3 linked regions of the Homo sapiens genome follow. The protein of the gene in region 1 interacts with the protein of each later gene in a pairwise test. Each region holds a gene or a part of one and is shown in the gene's direction. Other genes may lie near its edges.

Region 1 (7,818 bases):
TTTCTATGGCTTCTCCTTTTAAAGATGCCTTCCTAAAAGTTCTACACAACACTTTCACTGCCAGAAGTTAGATCCATGGTCACATCTAGCAGCAAGAGTGTCTGGGAAATAGTCCTTATTCCAGGTGGTCTGATTTTATCAACCAGGTTCTGTTATGAGAATGGGTATTTGGCATCCAGTCTCTGCCGCAGTGAGCAAGCTGAGAGAATTTCTTTTTTTTTTTAATTATTATTTTTTGAGACAGGGTCTTGCTGTGTTGCCCAGGCTGGAGTGCAGTGGTGTGATCTCGGTTCACTGAAAGCTCTGCCTCCTGGGTTCAAGCAATTCGCCTCCCTCAGCCTCCCAAGTAGCTGGGATTATAGGCACGTGCCACCATGCCCAGCTAATTTTTGTATTTTTAGTAGAGATAGGGTTTCACCATGTTGGACAGCCTGGTCTTGAACTCCTGACCTCAGGTGATCCACCCACCTCGGCCTCCCAAAGTGCTGGGATTACAGGCCTGAACCACCGTGCCTGGCCCAAGTTGAGAGAATTTCTGATAGCTTCTATTTCTTTGAGGTTGGAGGCATAGTAATTCACTGAAAGGGCAGAAAGGGCTGGGTAGCTGCCTTTCTGGGGTAAAAGTCTGAAATAGGTTGGGTGCACTGGCTCACGTCTGTAATCCCAGCACTTTGGGAGGCTGCAGTGGGAAGATCATCTGAACCCAGGAGTTCGAGACCAGCCTGGGCCAACATGGTGAGACCTTGTCTCTACAAAAAATTTAAAAATTTTCTGGGCTTGGTGTCATGTGCCCGTAGTTCTAGCTACTCAGGAGGCTGAGACAGGACGATGGCTTGAGCCTAGTGGGTCAAGGCTGCGGTGAGCCGAGATCCTGCCACTGCACTCCAGCCTGGGGGACAGAGCAAGACCCTGTTTCAAAAAATGAAAGTCTGAACTAATGGGAAGAGTGAGACATAACTGAAGTGAGACAGGCAGAAAAATGTTTCGGCTGGGTTAGAAAGACATGAAATTATGGCGCATCAATCTTCACAGAGATGTGATTTTCTTCGTAGCATTCAACAGCCTGGTATTAGCAGATCAGTGATGGAAGCTGTTGTTTAGGAAGAATGTGTATAAGGTTAGTGAAGAACACTGGTGAATCTGTCCCAGTCTGTTACTGCAGCTATGGTGTGACATAATCTAAAAATTCAGTAAATCTTACTTATGGTTAGATTTTTCTAGCCTTATACATACTGTATCCCAGGAGATGGCTCAAATGTTTGAAGTATAGAAGAGGAATGCCAGATGCATCAACCACGTGAGTGAAGTTAATAAACTGGCCCTAAAAGTCCTTTCCAATTTCTCTCATGAAATGTAAAAAGTGTCTCAAATTCTTTTATGTATTTATTTTTTGAGACAGAGTCTTGCTCTGTTGCCCAGGCTGGAGTGCAGTGGTGCAATCTCTGCTCACGGCAACCTCCACTTCTGGGTTCAAGTGATTCTCCTGCCTCAGCCTCCCGAGTAGCTGGGACTACAGGCGCCCACCAGCACACCCACTAATTTATGTGTTTTTAGTAGAGATGGGGTTTTGACATTTTGGCCAGGCTGGTCTCAAACTCCTGACCTCAGGTGATCCTCCTGCCTTGGCTTCCCAAAGTGCTGCGATTACAGGCGTGAGCCACCACACTTGGCCCTCAAATTCTTTGAAATTATTTTATTTATTCTACAAATATCTAATTAACACCTACAATATGCCAGACATTGCTCTACTCAAATGGACAAAGTATCTGACTTCATTAAGTTTACTCACTGGGGCAAGAGAAACAAATATATAATGTGAAGAAGGTCTTCATGGCCATTCACCTTCTGTGTAATTCCAGGGGTCACAGTACCTCTTGCAACAGTCCCCCAATCTATTCTCTCTCCCCTCCAAAACTTCCTACGTTTAGCTGTCAAATTAATCCTCCTATTTGCTATATAACTTATGTCTTCATTTGACACCTTTCAATGGGTCCCCTTTTGTCTACTGAATAAAGTTTAACTCTTTAGCTGGCACCTATCTTTCTACCTCTTTTCCCCTAACTTGTTTTTGTGTGTCCTGTGATTCTGCCAAATTAACCTGACCATTCACCAGGAAAATATAATCTCAGATTTTCTGAGTCACAGTTTGGATACAATCATTTTAGAAGGGTGGTGGTTGTAGAAGCCACACTGTAAAAGAAGAAATGACTCCTAGTCATGAGAGTGGTACACAAATATTCTGCTTCTTCAAGGCACAATGCAGAGATGAACACCTGCATTTCTTTGAAGTCAGGCTTGACCAGTGACTTGCTCTGGCCAAAAATATGTAGGCAGAGCAGCAAGTTTCACATCCAGGCAGAGGCTGTGCAATTTATTTCCCTTTCTTTTTTTCACTGCCAAGGGTCCCACTGCCTGCATCCACTCAAGCTATGAACATAAAAAGTAGATAAGAAAAAAATGCTATTGTTGAAGCCTCTGTGACTTAGAGGTTGCTACAGCATAACCCACTCCTGCCTGACTAGTACAGCTAGTAAAGAAATGGAAGTAGTGAATGTAAGCCACTCTCTGGAGGTTTGTCTTTCCACCTAAAAAAAGTCTTCAGCCAGGAGCGGTGGCTCACACTTGTAATCCCAGCACTTTGGGAGGCTGAGGCGGGCAGATCATGAGGTCAGGAGTTCGTGACCAGACTGGCCAACACAGTGAAACCCCGTCTCTACTAAAAATACAAAAATTAGCTGGGCATGGTGGCGGGCACCTGTAATCCCAGCTACTCGGGGAGGGTGAGGCTTCAACCTGGGAGGTGGAGGTTGCAGTGAGCCGAGATCGCACCACTACACTCCAGCTTGGGCGACAGAGCTACACTCTGTCTCAAAACAACAACAAAAACCCAAAAAATCTTCATATATAATACGCGTACGTACACGTAATAAAATGTGCCCAGTTTGTGTACTGTTGATGAATTTTAATAAATGTTTACACCTGTGTAAGCACTACCCTAACAGAACATTTCCTTTCCATCACCTTAAATATTTCCTGGGGACTTTCAGCAATCTATTTCTTCTCCCCCTCCTCCTGAATACAGCCTCAGGCAGCCAACCACTGATCAGCTATTATTATAGATTAGTTTTGCCTGTTCTAAAATTTCTTTTCTTTTTCTTTTTTTTTTTTTTGAGACAGAGTCTTGCTCTGTCACCCAGGCTGGAGTGCAATGGCGCGATCTTGGCTCACTGCAGCCTCTGCCTCCTGGGTTCAAGCGATTCTCGTGCCTCAGCCACCCAAGTAGCTGAGATTACAGGTGTGCGCCACCAGACCCAGCTAATATTTGTATTTTTAGTAGAGACGGGGTTTCACCATGTTGGCCAGGCTGGTCTCAAACGCCTTGACCTCAAGTGACCCACCCGTCTCGGCCTCCCAAAGTGCTGGGATTACAGGTATGAGCCACCGTGCCTGGCCTAGAATTTCTTATCAATGGAATCATACAATATGTATTAATTTTGTGGCCTTTGAGAAGTTTTTTAACTGTAAATTGGCTTTATAAATTAGCATACCTTTGAACTCACATAAAGGATGAAGGTTGAATTAGGGTAATTAATCTGTACCTCCCTGAATTGGTTTTGATTCCAAAAATATATACTAAATATAGTTTCCTGTTCCCTATTACAATAGAGTTCATATTTACTACAGTGAAACTATCATTTTCCACTCAGTTGAGACGTTACAAGACTTTAAGCCCCATGAAACATTCTATTTCGTGACCACTGTATACCCAGTGCCAACACTGTCTCACACATAGTAGTTGCTGAGTAAACATTTGTTGACTGAATGGATGTATTTCCCCTGAATTGCTTCTACATGTCTATGTTAGATGACTGGGGTGCTTTTATTTTTTTAGAGATAGGGCCTCACTTTGTCTCCCAGACTGGAGTGCAATGGCGCCATCATGGCCCACTGCAGCCTCCAACTCCTGGGCTCAAGTGATCCTCTTGTGTCAGCCTCCTGAGTAGTTGTGACTACAGGCGTGCGCCACCATGTCCAGCCAATTTTTGTACTTTTTGTAGAGACGGGGGGTCTCACTATATTGCCCAGGCTGGTCTTGAACTCCCGGCTCAAGCTATTCTCCCGCCTCAGCCTCCCAAAGTGCTGGGATTACAGGGATGAGCCACTGTGCCCAGTCGGGATGCTTTAATGTTAGAAACTTAATTACCTTGCGTTTTTAAAGGAATGTGTGAGAAGTGCCCTATTCTGCCTCAAGTGATGGCAGAGGGTGGAGATTGAGACTGGAGGAAGCCCTGTGCAGTACATATCTGTAAGTCATGAAATAGCATCATTTTCCTTGTCTGGTCATATTAAAACGGTGATTAAAAAATCAAGAAAATAAAATCCCACTAGCAGTGTGTCCGAGAATCTTTGTTTACCTCCTCCCTATTGTTATGTCATGACATGGAGCCCAGCTGGGGAATTCTGAATACTAGGTTCTAAAACAGGATTTGTCATAAACGAATTGCTTGATCCTGGACATTCACCTCTAAAATAGACACCTGACCTCGGTGTGTGTGTGAGTGTGGTGAAAATCAAGTGGGAGGGAAAGTGAGCAAGCACCTGAACAAGGTACAGAGGCGCGCGAGGTAGTACCATAATACCATCTACACCAAGGTCTATACTATCCCTGGTCTCCGCTGCGTCCGCCGGGAGGAGGCGGTGCAAGAATGCGCACGCGCGGCCCCGGGCCCGGCCACACCCTCTTCCGCCGCTCCCGCCCAGCGACCTCGCTCCCGGGGCGACGCCCCGCGTGCGCCAGAGTCGCCGAGGTCGTCCCCGGCACCGGAAGTGACCCTGGCGGGTTTGTCTTCAAATTCTCGGCGAGCAGGAGCCGCGCCGGCAGGTGGTGTTGACGATTGAACTGGGCAGTACTGGGGCCGTGAGCGGAGAGCAAAGTGGGCTGGACTGGGTCAGGCCCTCCTTCCTCGCTGCCGGGATCTCCACTCCGCCAATCCCCTGTGCCTGGCGTTGGGCGGTTTCCCGAGGAGCTTGGGCCGCCGCAGGTGAGTTTTCACTCTGGCGGTGCTCTGGGGACCCCCGATTTTCCAGGGCCGGGCTGGTGAGGGACTCGGGGGGCCCACAGCGAGAACCCGCCGCGCAACCCTCCGTGAGCCTGCCTGTGCCTGAGCTGAGGTCCTAGGTCCTTGCTGTTGTCCACGATAACTTGGCTTAGGTGACAGTCCCCCTACCTGAGGAATCCTGTCAGGCGGAGGACTTTTCGGGGGCTCCTGTCGATCCCATCTTTTGATCTGTGTCGTTAGCGAAGTCACCAGCCGAGTTTTTAGTTCTTCGATTTTTCGACTGGTTCTCTCCAGAACCCGCTCACGCCCCCCACCCCGAAACCCTCACAGGTAAAAATCCCGATGGCCATGACATTGGGAGGCAACTTCTTTTCTTAAAATTTGTTAGGTTCGAGTGATATTGTTGGGGATGTTATTTCTTATTTATTCTAGAGCCCGGCGTCCTCTGGAAGGCCTGTGGGCCTTTTGGTTTAGAGTTGGTACCTTTTAGAAAAGTTTTCCCTCGAAACAGTTGTTTCATACAAATGTGATGACAAAGTTAGAGATAAACGTAGATCCTGAAGTGCCTTACAGTGGATAATCTCAAGCTCTTATTTAATCAAAAATAGTTTCCTGTTAAAACCGCGAAGGGCCGCTTTTATATTAGTTACTAACTTCCAACAGCACAGTGATGCTCTTTTCTCTTGAAAGCACTAATTTACGTCTTCCTCTTTGAAATTAGACCTCTAGTTATTGCTGAAAACATTCCCGATGTTTTAGAATGGGTGCAGTAGATCTTTGTCACGTAATCACAATGATAATCACCTTAGTAGATGTTAAGACAGATTCTTGAAATGTTTTTACGGGCTTAAATGTCTCAGTATAAAGCCCTATTTTCTTTTCCAAAAGAGCTGGGTTTTGTTCTTTTTTTTTTTTTTTTTTTTTTTTTTGAGACGGAGTCTTGCTCTGTCGCCAGGCTGGAGTGCAGTGGCGCAATCTTGGCTCACTGCAACCTCCGCCTCCCGGGTTCAAGCGATTCCCCTGCCTCAGCCTCCTTGAGTAGCTGTGACTACAGGCGCGCTCCACTACGCGCGGCAAATTTTTTGTATTTTAGTAGAGATGGGGTTTCACCATGTTGGCCAGGCTGGTCTCGATTTCCAGACATTGTGATCCGCCCGCCTAGGCCTCCCAAAGTGTTGGGATTACAGACGTGAGCCACTGCGCCCGGCCGGTTTTTGTTCTTATACCAAGAAATAGGAGCAAAACTTTGTTTTGTATTAACATTAACAAGTTGTGGCCTGTAAATACCTTTAAAAAAAAAAACACGCAGTAGTGATCAACTTCCCAACATTCCTAGACTATGAAAAGCTATATAAAGCTTCTTTATAGCGTTGGTTATTCAAGAAGCGTTTACATTTTTATAGGTAATAGGCATGCTATGTAGTCCACAAGGGATTCTCCACCTCATTTTGAAACTGGTATCAAGATGCTGACAAATATTGAGGATTAGAGAATCTTGTTGAATTCACTCTATTAACAACATTGTTGAATTTCTATTAACAATAGTTTGGGTTTTTTTAGCCACTTGACTGTTTAAAAAAGATAGTATTATCACATAAATATGGTCAGTGTTGATAACATGCCAAATAGCTTTTGCTTGTGGCGTTTATCGATAGGGCTTGAATATGACTTTTAAATTACGTTTTAATAATTAAACTCACTGATTTGTTTGTTTAGGGTAAACTGAAAGTTTACTGTACAAATAGAGTGGACTTTATATGTACTTTTTTTCTGAACAGGTTGCTTTTTGGTGTTTTTAAAAAATAGTGGTAACTTTCTTGTGCTTAAGTATTTATCATATGATGGTTATAAAGGTAAGAAAAATGTATGCCATGCTGTAATTGGTCATGGGTCATTCATTTATTGTGCTTATTCGTAATCATCAGTGGCTGACTATAAATTAGCATGTGGTTTCTTTCATATCCCAGAGATGAACATTCTGAAAATTACTTACCAATGTATGGCCACTTTTGAAGTCATATACACTTGCTTTACTGAAATGCCTTCAGGAAGATGCATGATTGGGCTTCGTGATCTTTTTGTTTTAGGAGGTAAATTTTACAGAGAGGTATTTAAAAAACACTTTCAGCCTTCCAACATTGCTGCTGATTTTTTAGTCTGTGTTTAATAATATTCTATGTTTGTCTTCTCTTACTAAGCAAAGAAAACCCACCTAGAATAAATAAGGTGATATCCCTTCTATTAAACTTCAAGGATTTCAAGGTCTAATTCTGTCTTATTTTTGTCTTCAGTGCAATTCCTTGCAACTTAGTTGGTGTTCCTTTAATATTTCTTGAATGAATGACCCATGCACATTATGTTAAAAAAAACTGCAAATAAGTGGAGCCCAGCCTGAGTCCTTTAAAAATTAAATGGGTAAGGTATCCTCTTTAGGTGTGAAATAGGCAGGGCCCTGTATTTGTTGTTTAGAGAGAGAATAAGAATCTTAGAACTCAGATATTTCAATATTTTGCCTGTTCTTTTTCAGTCTCTGTGATCACTTCTTTTTCCTAATCCTAGAGGAGAAAAAAAAAAACTTTCTCTGTGGAGAGACAGCACTGCATCACATACTATATTGCTAGAAAATTTGCTGTAAAATTGCGATTTCAGTATTTTTAAAAATTTGATTCTGTCACTTGAGTTAAAATTTCACATTGCATCTTGCTTACTCTAAGTAAGTTAATTTAGTCATTAGCTAACTCATAAATACTCAAGGCAT
Region 2 (7,560 bases), on another chromosome or scaffold:
TGGGCTGATTTCACTGGATATGATTTTATTAGCCACCATTTGATCATGGGCCTGTAATTGATTAAATAAATGTATATACCCATTAAATAATTACAGCTTGGAAAGTGATTCTTTTTTACTAAGAATCATTTGTGATCTTTTTACTAAGATCGTTTGTGTAATGATCGAATTAGGGTAATTAGCAAATCCATCCTTTTGTTTGTTTGTTTGTTTGTTTTTGGATGGAGTCTCACTCTGTTGCCAGGCTGGAGTGCAGTGGTGCGATCTCAGCTCACTGTAACCTCCAGCTCCCGGGTTCAAGCAATTCTCCTGCCTCAGCCTCCCGAGTAGCTGGGACTGCAGGCGCGTGCCACCATGCCCAGCTAATTTTTGTATTTTTAGTAGAGACAGGGTTTCACCATGTTGGCCAGGATGGTCTCTTGACCTAGTGATCTCCCCACCTCGGCCTCCTGAAGTGTTGGGATTATAGGCGTGAGCCACTGCACCCAGCCTTTCACTAAGTTAAAAAAAATTAAAACTGACACGAGAATGGTACATATTTGTGGGGTACAATGTGATGTTTTGATACGTGCACACATTGTGTAAGGATCAAATTAGGGTAATTACCAAATCCATCTCAAACATTTCTTTGTGGTGAGAACATTGTAAGTTCTCTCTTCTACCTATGTTGAAATATACATTATTCAAAAAATAAGAGGTGCTGGTGAGGTTGTGGATAAAAGGGAAGGCTTATATACACTGTTGGTGGGAGTGTAAATTAGTTCAACCATTTTGGAAAGCAGTGTGATGATTCCTGAAAGAGCTAAAAACAGAATTAACATTTCACCCAGCAATCTCATTACTGGGTATATATAGGAATATAAATTGCTCTGCCATAACGACACATGCACTCATATGTTCATTGCAGCACTATTCTCAATAGCAGAGGCATGGAATCAACCTAAATGCCCATCAGTGGCAGACTGGATAAGGAAAATATGGTATATATACACCATGGAATACTACGGTATACACCATGGAATACTATGCAGCCATAAAAAAGAACGAGATCATGTCTTTTGCAGGAACATGGATGGAGCTGGAGGCTATTATTCTAAGTGAAGTAACACAGGAACAGAAAACAAAATTCTGCATGTTTTCACTTATAAGTGGGAGCTGAATGATGAGAACACATGGACACATAGAGGGGAGCAATAGATACTGGGACCTAAAAAAAAAGTTAAACTCTACTATGCGATAGAATACCAGAACTTATCCCTCCCATCTGACTTTAACTGTGTACTGGTTGACCAATCTCTCACCATCCTCCCTCCCTGCTCCCCTTGGAGAGTGATTCTCTTATTTTTTTCATTTTTATTTTTGAGAGACAGGGTCTCACTTTATTGCCCAGGCTGGAGTGCAGTGGTGCGATCGTAGCTCACTGCAGCCTTGACCTCCTGGGCTCAAGCGATACTCCATCTCAGCTTCCTGAGTAGCTGAGATTGCGGGCATGCACTACCATGCTTGGCTAATTTTTTAATTTTTGTAGAAACTGGGTCTTGCTATGTTGCCCTGGCTGGTCTTGAACTCCTGGACTCAAGTGATCCTCCCACCTCAGCCTCCCAAAGTGCTAGGATTACAGGTGTGAGTCACCACGCCCATCTGAGAGTGATTCTTAATCACAGGCCACAGGATACTGCTCTTGCCCATTCCTAGTTTGTTCCAGCTGTATCAGACTGCTGGCTGAGCTGTCCTGCTTGTGGTGCTGAGCCAGACAAAGGCTGGTTGGGGATGTGTAATAAGGACACTGCGTAGCGAAGCAGCCCCAGAGACATTCAGGCAGCCAGAGATGGTGCACAAAGCATAGATAAACAGATAAATGCAAGGGTCTTTACTCATCCCTCCCTGGCCCTCCCCATGGCTCTGACTCTCCAAGAAAATAAATCAAGCTAATGCCCCAAACCCAGCTGTGTAAGTCCATAATGGGAGACAGAGGATCAAACAGCAGCACCTGCCAAGAAGATGATGCATTCTCTATGAATCAGCCCAGTGACTCAGCATCTGATAAAGCTTATTTGGAGTGTTTAGGGCAAGGGAAGGGGTGGTCCTGTTCTGCTTTGTGTGCTCAGGCCCTCCGGCATTGGCTGGTCCAAGGCTCCCCACTGGCATTGGCTAGTCCAGGGCTGGGCCAAGGGTTTCAAGAGAGATGAGGTCCAGAATGTCAAAGGGCTGGGGAAAAGTCTGCAAACCACGGCAAGGCAAGGAGCTGCAAGCCTGGAGGTCACTGGGAAAAGCAGACTACGTTGCCTTCAAATATCAGAAGGGGCACTATGGGAGAGATAGGCTGGATTTTCTCTGTGTGGCTCCAGAGGGCAGAACTGGGCTCCGGATTGGCCCATACACGAGCCAGACTGTGACTCAACCAAAGAAGGCCCTAACTTTATCAACAGCTTTACTAGACAAATGGTTGCATGGCAGGTAGTGAGCTCCCTGTTATTGGTGGCATTCAAACATGGGCAGGATGACCACCGGGTGCAGATGCTGGGGATGGGGTAGGAATCAAGCAGTGTGTGAGTCCTGAACCAATCAATGTCTATGATCTGCTTAGAATATGAAACATCTGGTGATGCATTTATGGCGCTTTCAAAATTTACACTTTTCTTTCCTCAAAGTTTGACCTTCTGAACCTTGTTTGCTTAGTAGTGGGAATAATCAAGTAATTATTCCCAAGGGATCACAGTCATGACTGTGAATCTGTGAATCATGCTATTTTCTCCCAAGTCCTTTCTTCCTCTCTTCCCTTCCCCTAATTCAGCTGGCTAAGGCGGATCTCACTGACTGACCTCCAAAGTCTAATTTTTAAAAATATAACTAGATTTATGCCTTCTGTTCCGGATGCTGAGGGAGCTACAGAACAGAAAAGTTACAAGGAGCGAGCTCAAAAACAATTCTTCTAACCTCAGGTATTGATAAGGAGCAGGCACTGATAAGGAGCAGGCACTGTCCACAGAAAATGTAGCTGTTACTGATAATTAGACATTTTTTTTTTAAGAAAAATAAAGTGTAGCCTCTTCTGGGACATTTTTTTCTTCTTCTGGGTTAATGGCCTTCTAATACTTGGCTTGGCTCTAGGTTAGGTTGCAGGGAGCCGTGGAGATGATCCATTCCCGATTCCTCATCGTCCAGATGGAAGAAACTGAGGCCCAAGGGCAAAGTGATTAGTCCGAGGTCACCCAGTGTCTAGGGGCACACCTAGGACTGTAATCAGACTTTCATGGACCTGGTCTGGGTTCTCCCACTTAGTCATGGGCCTTGAAGATTCCCCGAGGCTGCCTCCTGAAAAGGACTGGGGTCCTAGTGGCCCCTGGACGTTGGGCAAGCAAGGGACTGGGCCTCCATGTTGTGCCTCCATAGTCCTGATCCTGAACTGGAAAACTCAGCCCCTGACCACGCAGCTCTCCTTTAAGCCCCTTTGTTTCACATGGTTTTCAAAGTCTGCCACCCACAGTGGGGCTGCCTGTACCCGCCCTGTCCACCCATTGCCCCAGCTGTCAGCCCCTTGACTTCTCTCCTGGGGCTTAAACATCCCTGGCTCCAAAATGGGCAGCTCACTTTCTTCCCCAAGAAGTAGCTGCACCTCCAGGGTTCCTAGATTTGCCCCTCCTTGCCAGGGGGAGGGGTGGCTGCGACAGGAGATTCTCCCTGCTCTCAGCAGAAGGAACTCCAGCAGTTGGAGACCAGCAAACCCCTCTGGACACAGATCTGATTTCCTAACTGGGAAGGCTCAGGGCAAAATAAAAATTCAGGTCCACTGGTTCAAAAACTATGAAGAATTTCAAGACCGTCACAGTAGCCCATTAAACCAAACGTGGATCTGCAAGGGTCCCACAGCCATGAAGCCCACCCTGCTTGGTTGGGTTCCAAAAAGATGGGGACAGTGATTGCTTAAGCTCTGTGGATCAAGGACCCCGGAGAGGCCTTCTGGCTCTCCACATATCTGCTCTGATCACTCCTAAACACAATTCTGTTTCCTCCAGGCCTGGCGGGTCAGTCCAGGGACCCCCATCAGTGTGATGTTTCCAGGAGTAGGCGTTTCAATACTTCCTGTGCTCTCTTCTCCAGCACAAGGCCCCTCTCCATCCCACCCTCATTATGTCTGACTCTTTACTATTTAAATGGGTCAAGAGAAGTGGCGCTTGTGTAATGTGAAGGTTAAGGTCAGTAGGGCCAGGGAACTGTGAGATTGTGTCTTGGACTGGGACAGACAGCCGGGCTAACCGCGTGAGAGGGGCTCCCAGATGGGCACGCGAGTTCAGGCTCTTCCCTACTGGAAGCGCCGAGCGGCCGCACCTCAGGGTCTCTCCTGGAGCCAGCACAGCTATTCGTGGTGATGATGCGCCCCCCGGCGCCCCCAGCCCGGTGCTGCACCGGCCCCCACCTCCCGGCTTCCAGAAAGCTCCCCTTGCTTTCCGCGGCATTCTTTGGGCGTGAGTCATGCAGGTTTGCAGCCAGCCCCAAAGGGGGTGTGTGCGCGAGCAGAGCGCTATAAATACGGCGCCTCCCAGTGCCCACAACGCGGCGTCGCCAGGAGGAGCGCGCGGGCACAGGGTGCCGCTGACCGGTGAGATGTCCCCGTCTTCCCTACCCTTGAGCAGAGCCACACCAGGACGGATGGGCGGGCAGGGGATGGCAGCCAGGCAGAGAGGGATGACACAGCTCGCAGTCACAACCCCTGCGCTTTCGACGGAGCCCAGGAAGCCAGGGAGGGGAGGTGGCCGGAGCCCCATCACCAGGCAGCTGAGCCAGGGGCCCCGGCGCAACCGCCGCCTGAGAGCACGAGCTCCAACCACAATTCTGTGGTGGGGGGGTAAATAGAACAGATATAATGATCATCCTTTCGCAAAGATGGGGAAACTGAGACCTGGAGACCTGCCGCGTTGCGGGAGACCCAGGCTAGCAGGTGACAGAGCTGGCCTGCACCGAGCTCCTTCCTGCAGCATATCCTCTGCGAAGATGCGGATCTCTCAGTTGTGGCTTTCGGCTTGCATGCATGAGTCATCTAGTTTTCTTCTAAATTCTCTAGCTCTCTGGACACTGTTGCCTGTAAGTATGAGGCTGCGGATTTCAGTATATGCTGCAACCACCGAAATCCGACTTTTTCTGCCTCCTAATGCATCTGAGGTGCATCAGAGAAAAGTCACACAAGATCCACCAGGCCTCAGACCTCTGATTCCACAGTCTCATTTTACAGATGATAATCTGAGGCCTGGAGAGGTTTAGGACTGGTGCCAACACTAAACAGCAAATAAGTATCAGAATTGGGATTCGAGCCAAAGCCTCTTGACCTTCCAGAATTTCTGGACCTAGTTAAAAAAAATATGATTTTTATTATTATTTTTTAAACGGAGAGGTTAGGAATTTAAAGGAAAGTACAGATACTATATAAAAAAAGATGCCCATGAAAATGTTAAGTTATAATAATAGTGGAGCATTGGGCACAACTGAAATGGCCAATCTTGTGAGAATGGTAAAATAAACTTAGGTCCGTGAGTAAGTGGAGTATTACATAGCCATAAAAGTATGCCCTTAAAGAATATTTGAAGATGGTGAATGTGAAGAATCTTGTATAAACTGCATGGAAGACAGAAGGAAATATACCACAGTGCTAACCTTTGCCTCTGGGTGATATGAATTACCGGTGATTATTTTTCTTATTTTCCTTTTGGTTTAGTTTTCTCCATTTGAAGAAGCAGATAGGAGCCGGGGCTTTGGGATTGAAACCCTCACCATCTGTGTGCCCTCTTCACTGTCTTCCCATCCTCCCCACGGCTCCCTGTTCACAGTCATTGATTTTCTTTCTTTCTTTTCTCTCTTTTTTTTTTTTTTTCCTGAGACCAAGTCTCACTCTGTTGCCCAGGCTGGAGTAGAGTAGCGCCATCTCGGCTCACTGCAACCTCCGCCATCCGGGTTCAAGCAGTTCTCATGCCTCAGCCTCTGAGTAGCTGGGACTACAGGCGCATGCTGCTACATCCGGCTAATTTTTGTATTTTTAGTAGAGACATGGTTTCACCACCTTGGCCAGGCTGGTCTCGAACTCCTGATCTCAAGTAATCCGCCTGTCTTGGCCTCCCAAAGTGCTGGGGTGACAGGTGTGAATCAATGCGCCCTGCCAGGTCATTGATTTTCTTAAGCCTCCAGCCCTGCCCTGCTTGGAAACGTTTTGGGAAGCTGCTCAGTTCAAAGTTCCCAGGAGGGTGTGCCTGGAGGGGAGTTGCTCCCAAAGTCTGCCTGCTCCCCCCGCCCCCCCTGCCCCCCACCCCCCGCCATCTTCTCCTCCTCCTCTTCCCCTGAGCAGCCCCTTTGTCCACAGAACCGGCCTTTTCTGGTAGAAGGAGCAAGGCCAAGTGGTTTAAGCCTTCTTAGGGAGAATGAGGCTGTGTGGTAGTGCTGGGGACTCGAGGGCCTTGGCCTTGGCATGGCTCTTCCACCCAGGGCAGCTGGCAGCCAGGCTCCCAGGAGGCAGAGGAGATGAGGGGGGAGGTGAGTCCGAGCAAAGGAAAGGAGGTCGGCTGTGCAGTCACGGTTCTAGAACATTCCTTGGATCAGCAGCATCCATATCACCTGCAGACTGGCTGGAAAAGCAGTCTCAGAACCAACATTATAACCAGCCCTGCAGTGATTCATAAGTACTTTAAAAAGTGGTCAATCATTTCAGCAAAGCAGAGCCACACAGTCCGGGGGACCACAGGTGGCCTCTGTGTGCTTGTCTCGGTTTTCCTGCCCCTCTCCAGACATGTTGATTAGACACTGCCAATGCCCAGCCTCAGACCTCAGTCTAATTTGGAAGTAGTCAGAATTTACTATGATTACATAAGACCCTCGTGTTTACAGAACACATTCCCCTCTCTGAGGTCTGGATTAGATCCATTTTACAGATGAAGAAACTGAGGCTCAGATATTTAAGTGACTTGGAATCAAGGAAAGAATACTGGACTAGGGGTCGGGAGGGCTGGGCTCTCATCCCAGGGTTACCATGAGCATGCTGTGGACTCTAGGGAGTCCCATGCCCTCTCTGGGCTTCAGCCTCACCGCTAGGGTAGAGAGGTTGGGTGAGAGAACGACCTCCTTCCCAGGTCTGAGCTGGATGGTTCACCAGGGACCCCAGGCTCCCTGGAGCAGACTCTGTGCCCGCTGCTGAGTCTGGAATTCCTTTCCTGTATCTTGCCTTTGGCTGCCCCATTCTTCATGGCCCAGCACCCTGTCTTCTGGTCAGAACCTAGTTCTGAATGGGTTTTTCCAGAAGTTGTTGCTTTCAGGGGCCCCTGGCAGAGAGGTGTTTCTGGCTGGCTTTGTCTCTCTGGCATGACAAAGGCTCTGTTCCTGCTGGAGGCATTTCAGGGCTCAGTGGGCAGCTGGGGCAGAGCCCGTGAGACCACAGCCTTCCTGGTGAGCCCGGTCTCCGCCCCCTACCCCATCTCTGGGGAAGGCGCTGACCCCATCTCTTCTCCCACGCTGCTCCCTGGCTCTTTGCGCCTGATTACTTCTCATGAGAGGCACTCCTTGTTAATGTGCTACTGAGTG
Region 3 (7,023 bases), on another chromosome or scaffold:
TCTCTATCTTGGAAAAATCACTAAACTCAGTTTTTCAGAGAGAGACACAATCACTGCTCTAGGCATTGTTGTATATGTTTTATATAGGTTATCCCACTTCCCAACAGCCCCTGAGAGGAGAGTGTTATCCCCATTGCACATTAAGGTAAAAACCGGTGTAGAAACGGCCCAAAGGCAGCAATCTAGGTTTTAAATAGAGATGAGCCTTGCTCCAAGGCTAGTCTAACATGCTGCCCCCACCACGTTCCACCTGGTGACAGTATAGTCTAATTGCAGGAAATGTACTTGCAGGAGGAGAGAGATGGTTTCTTGAGATTCGGATTTGAAAGTCTATAAATACCAAATATTATCATAGTCATAAATGTTTTTGGGTCACCTGATCTCAGTTGTAGATTTACAATAGAGGGCTGTAGATGTAGCAGAAACAAGCTATCTTAAAAATAGGATCCCCCATCACTCAACACCTCCCTACCACCCACCCTTCACCCCGCAAAAAACACTACCAGGGGTTTTGTTTTGTTTTTTGGGTTTGTTTTTGTTTTTGTTTTTTTTGCTTACTGCTTCTGCCATTACTTCCTTCCACAGCCTGCAAAGGAAGGTAGGGAAGGGAGGAGCAGAAAAAAGGGATTGACTTCTCACTTTGACTGCTAAAGTCAACTGCCTAGAATTTTCCAAAGGTGCTGAGGCTGAGCAGTGTGGAATGGGTGAGCTGTTGCTGTCTTTTAGGTCCCTTCAGGCATTGTTCTCTGTCAGAATCGGCATTGGTCTCAATGAGAATGACATACAATGCAGTAAATGATATGGCTTCTAGGACCCTAGACGGAACTACACTTTTATACCTAATGTTATTGCTATCAGTCATTCCTCCCTACCCCTGGCCATCCAGCATCCTGGTAACAAATCAACTCTTCTTCTTCTTTTTCTTGCTTTTTTTTTGGTTGGTTTGTTTTTAAGAGACAGGGTCTTGCTCTCTTGCTGGACTACAGTGCCATAATCATAGCTTACTATAATCTTGAGCTCTTTGGCTCAAGTGATCCTCCCACCTCAGCCTCCCGAGTAGCTAGGACTACAGGTATGCACCACCATGCCCGACTATTTTTTAAATTTTTTGTAGAGTTGAGGTGTTGAAATGTTGCCCAGCCTGGTCTCAAACTCCTGGCCTTAAGCGATCCTTTCACCTTGGCCTCCCAAACAGATCAATCCTTCTAAAGAACTGACTTAGTCATTCCCCTGCTCAATTGTCTTTGCTGTCTCCTTGCACCTCAAACACTTTGCTTGATAATTCCAGGTCTTCGCAACCTATCAGGTGCCTTACGTACCTTTTCAGTCTTCACTCCTGTGACTCTTGCAAGCACTTTTCCCTCCACTCAAATCAGAATAGACTGCAGTACTAGAACTTACTTTGCATTTCCACCTCTCTGTCAGGAACATCCTGTCTGTCCTCTCCAGTTCATCAGGCCCAGCTCCACCATCCCTCCCCTGCTTGCCATCAAGCAGTGTACACAGGACTGCATGGCAGCTCTTTTCTCATGTGGGTCACTCTACACTGTGTCCTTGAATGATTCTGCACCCCGTAGAGAGGGGGATGTGAGGCAGGAAGGCTAACTTAGCTGCGTGTTCTCTCAGAAGGAAGGAATGAAGGAATGGCCAGAGGAGTAGACACCCTTGGAGACTGCCCACCACGAAGGCTATCAGTAAACCACCTTTTTGTACACAAACACTGATGTAGGGATTTTTTTAATGTATGGGCTGTACCTTTTTTTAGTAAGAATTCAAATTTTATTGAGCCCCAAGGGGGAAAAATTCAACTTTATTGATAGGAAAAGTATCAATGAAGAAAGTTGCCTTGCATTTTCATCACTAAAATGACAGTATTTGTATATATTCCAAAAGTAGCAATGCAAAGGCAGTTTTCCTTATTTTTATGTGAAATTATGAGATGTGAGGGCCTGGGCTGCCCATCACTGATACAAACTTTATAACTTGGCTCTGGAGATTAACCTGCCTGAGATCCTGTGCCCTAACAAGCTCCAGAAATGAGAATATCAAGGTTCTTCTCTGGCCTCCAGCAACTGGAGGCCTTGTATTAGCTGAGATTCTTCTGTGTTAACACAGCAGATTCCCTGAGTTCCAGGACTCCATTACTTGTCTTAATTCTTTAGCCTCCCTTGAGGATAACGATCATATAGTACACTCTTTTTACCCTATTCTTCTGATGAGAGGCCAGCACAGTGCCTTTTGCATAGTGGGTCATCAAGAAATTCCTGTTCATGATGATGAAGAAATGACTTGAGAGAAAGTGACTTCACCCATGTGTGTTGAATTTTTATTTTCTTTAAAACAACACATCTACTTAGTGGAAGTCATATTCAGGAAATATTCTTTATTGTACATACATGGAACCTAGGGCTCCAGCTTCCTTTACTCACCTAGCTGGACTCTCTCAACAGTACCACCTGTTAACAGATGTGGCCCCACACATAGGCATGTATGTGCCTTGCTTATGCTTGGTACAATCGAGAAGCTCTCAAAGGTGTTGCTTATGCCAAATATCCTAAAACTATTTTCCCACTGCCCTAAGGTCTTGCCTCAATTTTCAACATGACTTTTTTTTTTTTTTTGATTAAGTAAGGACTCTGTTACTAGGGAGGAAAAATACATAAAGTTATAACAACCTGATGACATCTTAGTTCTGATCAGTTTATCTGACAGGCCTCCCATTGCTCGGAACTCCCACGGCATTTAGGAGATACCTTTTATCACTGCAGTGTATTGGAATGATCTCTTTTCCTGTTTTTCAAGCCACTGAGAGCTGCTTCAGGCGATTTCCAGCACCAGGCACAATTTGCCTGGCACATGGCGGGCCTTCAAAAAGATTGTTAAACCAAACTTAAGCAGCCTGCTCCCTAGGCAAGCCTTGAGTTCCGAAATGAGTGCCTGAAAAAGCAAGCCAAGGGATGTAGTCTTGTGGTGAGGAAGTATTTCCACCAAAGGCACTGCTTGGTTGGTTTCTGCAAGGGGCGAGAGAACCACCATAGACAAACTTGCTCCTGTCACAGCTTGGCTAACCTTGACCGGTGGCTTATCTATGAAGGTGAGCAGCCTGGTTCTAATGAAGAGAACTGCCCTCAGTAATTAAAAGTTCATCATCTACAGACCCAACCCTAACCTCATAATCTAATTTAGTGTTCCCCATCCCAACAAGACCGAACCAGCTTCCTGAGGACAGGTTCTGCATCATGTACATTTCTTGTGTTCTTAAGAGTCTAGCACAAAGTTTGGCACATAATAGGAACTAAAAAAATGATGACTAACAAACACGAAGGGCTTACCATATGCCGGGCACTCCTCTAAGCATTTTATATGTATTAATTCATTTAATCCTCACAACACTAAGAGACAGATACTATTGTTATTGTCCCCATTTTACAGAAGGGGAAAGCAAAGCACCTAGGAGTTTATGTGACTTGCTCAAGGTCACATAGTTCCACAATCCATGCTTTTAGAAACTATGCCTTAGAGCGTTTATTAGTATCATTTTTATTTTTATAGAGACGGGGGCGGAGGTGGGGGGTGGGGGGTAGTTGTCCCCATGTCGTCCAGGCTGGTCTTGAATTCCTGGGCTTAGGTGAACCTCCTGCCTCGGCCTCCCAAAGTGCTGGGATTACAGGTGTGAGCCACTGTGCCCAGACTCTTAGTGTATTTAAATAGGTGTGAATGAATAAATCTCTCCCGGAACCATAACTTTATAGGAAATTGTTTGCACCTCCTGGTACACCACTAAGGCACGGTCTCCCACACTAGGTTGTTCCTAGCGCACGGTCGGTCATTCGTTGACCTTTACCCACCCTCAGTTCCTATCGCAGTATCACTTCTCGCGCCATAGCAAGGCTACCGTGCGAAGCTCTAGCCACCAGGGGGCACTGTGGCCACAGGTCCTTTTCCCCTCCGGCCCTTAGCGACCCCCAGAGGGGCGGAGCCAACGTTGGGCGGAGCCCGCGAGCCGCCCACAGCGCCAGCTATCCCGGCGGGCCGCGCGCGCGGCCGCGTTTGAATGGCCCTGAGTGGGACTCGGCCCAGAAGCCGAGGGACTCTCTAGGCTGCCGGGCGCTGGTCGTCAGCGCCGAGGCTGGGCTGAGGCGCCGCGGTACCATGAGGCGCCGGTAAGTGACTGCCGAGCCGGTGCGAGCCCCGCGCCCGCAGCTGCCCTGCCCTGGCAGGGCTACTCCAGCCGGGCTTGGCCGCGCCCTGGGCCCACCTGCAGGCCCCGCGGCGGCCTCGGCTCGGCCGGGCTCGCGGCAGCGCTGCCGGGTCCCGGGGCGGGGCGGCAAGGCCGGGGCGGAGCCCCTCTGCCGGTCCCTGCGGGGAGAGTCGGGCAGCGGGCGCTGGGGGGCTCCAGGGGACTGGGCCGGGAGAGGCGTGGACCGAACCTGTTGTCACTTATTTATCTTCGGGTGGAGTCGACAGCTGCACCTGGGGAAGGGGAAGGACAGAACGAGTGTGGGGCGAGCATTTTTGAGGACAGGTTTTCCGCAGAGCGCCTAGGCCCGGCCCAGGCATTTCCTTATTTTCCGACGGGTCCTCGGATTCCTGACGGATGAGCTTTTGTTTCGCAGGACAAAAACTTGACATAACTGCATAAGAATTGTCGATTGCAACTTTAAAAACCTTACTGTATTTTCTGAAAAGTTGTTCTGTAAAGTATCTAGGCTTTTACTACGCTCTTATATTGCTTAAATATGGAGATAACAAAGAGTTGGTTTGTTTTCTTGTGGCTTATAAAGTTCCTTGAAAACAGAGATACCTATGTCAGTTTCTTTGCTGATTTAAAAAAAATTGTAAGAGAAATTAGGTGTGTAATAATCATCAGTTCAGCACTTGCGAGAATTATGAGAAACTAGTCCACCTAATAGCTTAAATCTGCTGGGTTTTTTGGAGTTTCTTTGGATAGCCAGCTTCAGACTTGAATTGAAACGTCATCCATTGAGGCTTTTACTTGGCTAATAACTAATATTAGCCAATAATAATATTAGCCAGTGTGATCATAATGATGGGCAATATTTATTTTGTGCTTTCTATGCGCTGGGCGTATTAAGAGCTTTACTTTGGGATATATACTGTTGTCCCCATTTTGACAGTGAAGAAACTAAGGCACAGGAAATTTTAGTATTGTAACTTTTGTACCGTACAGGGTTACACAGCTAATATAATTAACACCCGAGCAGGCTGGCTCCACGCTTTTAACTCTGTTGCTCTACTACCTCCTTTATCTGTGGCTCTTTTTAGTTTACAAAGCCCTTTCATTTCATTTACTTAAACTTCGGAGACCTGAGTGTGCTTTTGTGTACACATACATTCATTCACACACCATTCATTCAAGTTTTCTGCTCTTGATGATTATACTTAAGGTTTGTGCCTGAGCAAAAAATCCATTGACTATTTTAAGATAAATGGAGTTCATAAGCTTTATGTGTGTTATAATTTATGTTTTCAATTCCTTTATATCCTTTCCTGAAAGTTTTGAAAGTGTTAGTCTTAGCAACTTATGTATTACTTTAAAATAAAAAATTACATGTTAAATGTTTTCATCCCTAAAACTTATTGAGTGGTTATTCTGTACTTGAAATGGTTATACTTAAACTAATACCTCCTTGACAAGGAATAAATTTCAAAAGCAAAATCACTTAGTAAGAAATCAGCAGTTTATACTTATCTATAGCAGAGCTTTTAAATGTCATTCATCAGTTACAAAGCTTTCGATTGCCTGTATGCCCAACAGGGTGGTAGACCCAATTGGCTATACAAAAGAAATGTGCCGCAAGAATGACACTATGGACTTTGGGGACTTGGTAGAAAGAGAGTGGGAGGGGGATGAAGGATAGAAGACTACACATTGGATACAGTGTTCACTGCTCAGGTAATGGGTGCACCAGAATCTCGGAAATCACCCCTGAAGAACTGATTCATGTAACCAAACACCACTTGTTCCCCAAAAACCTATTGAAATAAAAAATAATAAAAATAAAATAAAAAATGTGCCAGGACAACCAACCTTAGGGAGATTAATCTAGTTTGGGTTATGAGATTAACAACAAAAAATATATATGACACTCTTCGTTAGTACAGTGGATGAATGCAGAACTGAACTGGGTAAAGCTTCTGCGAAAAACTAACAATTGCAGGATTTATGTAGGGCACTGAACAGAAGGGTGGATGGTGGGGCTAGGCAGGGTTGGTAATCCCAACACTTTGGGAGGCCAAGACAGGAGGATCTCTGGAAGCCAGGAGTTCGAGAGCAGCCTAGGCAACATAGCGAGACCATATCTCTACAAAAAATTTAAAATATTTTGCCAGGCATGGTGGCATGTGTCTGTAGTCCCAGCTACTTGGGAGGCTGGGGTGGGAAGATCGCTTAAGCCCAAGAGGTCAAGGCTACAGTGAGCCGAGATTGTGCCACTGCACTTCAGTGCAGCCACAGAACTGGTGTGGCTCACACCTGTAATCCCAGCACTTTGGGAGGCCAACGGTAGGAGGAAAGCTTGAGCCCAGAAGTTTGAGACCAGCCTGGGCAACATACCAAGACTCCATCTCTACAAAACATTTTAAAATTAGGGCCAGTGGGTCATGCCTGTAATCCTAGCACTTTGGGAGGCTGAGGCAGGTGGATCACAAGGTCAGGAGATCGAGACCATCCTGGCTAACACGATGAAACCCTGTCTCTACTTAAAATACAAAAAATTAGCTGGGCGTGGTGTCACACGCCTGTAGTTCCAGCTACTTGGGAGGCTGAGGCAGGAGAATCGGTTGAACCCAGGAGGCAGAGGTTGCAGTGAGCCGAGATCGCACCACTGCCTTCCAGCCTGGGCGACAGAGTGAGACTCCATCTCAAAAATAAAATAAAATAAAATTAGGCAGGTGTAGTGGCATGCGCCTGTAGTCACAGCTGCTTGGGAGGCTGAGGTGAGAGGATTCCTTGAGTCCAGAAGTTGGAGGCTGCAGTGAGCCATGATCATATCACTGCAC

The links. The genes of interacting proteins can lie anywhere in the genome.
Region 2: the proteins of KATNA1 (region 1) and CLU interact in a two-hybrid assay, tested with the Homo sapiens proteins (one study listed by BioGRID).
Region 3: the proteins of KATNA1 (region 1) and KATNBL1 interact in binary tests that used the Homo sapiens proteins (3 or more experiments, as listed by UniProt).

What each region holds. Positions count from the first base shown.
Region 1 is NC_000006.12:149,645,693-149,653,510, reverse strand, and holds the start of KATNA1 (katanin p60 ATPase-containing subunit A1), read left to right. Parts: upstream 1-4,796; 5' UTR 4,797-5,042; intron 5,043-5,267; exon of another isoform or gene 5,268-5,390; intron 5,391-7,027; exon of another isoform or gene 7,028-7,150; intron 7,151-7,818. UniProt on the Homo sapiens protein: Catalytic subunit of a complex which severs microtubules in an ATP-dependent manner. Microtubule severing may promote rapid reorganization of cellular microtubule arrays and the release of microtubules from the centrosome following nucleation.
Region 2 is NC_000008.11:27,611,695-27,619,254, reverse strand, and holds the start of CLU (clusterin isoform 1 preproprotein), read left to right. Parts: upstream 1-4,554; 5' UTR 4,555-4,600; intron 4,601-7,503; exon of another isoform or gene 7,504-7,560.
Region 3 is NC_000015.10:34,207,091-34,214,113, reverse strand, and holds the start of KATNBL1 (KATNB1-like protein 1), read left to right. Parts: upstream 1-4,017; 5' UTR 4,018-4,163; intron 4,164-7,023.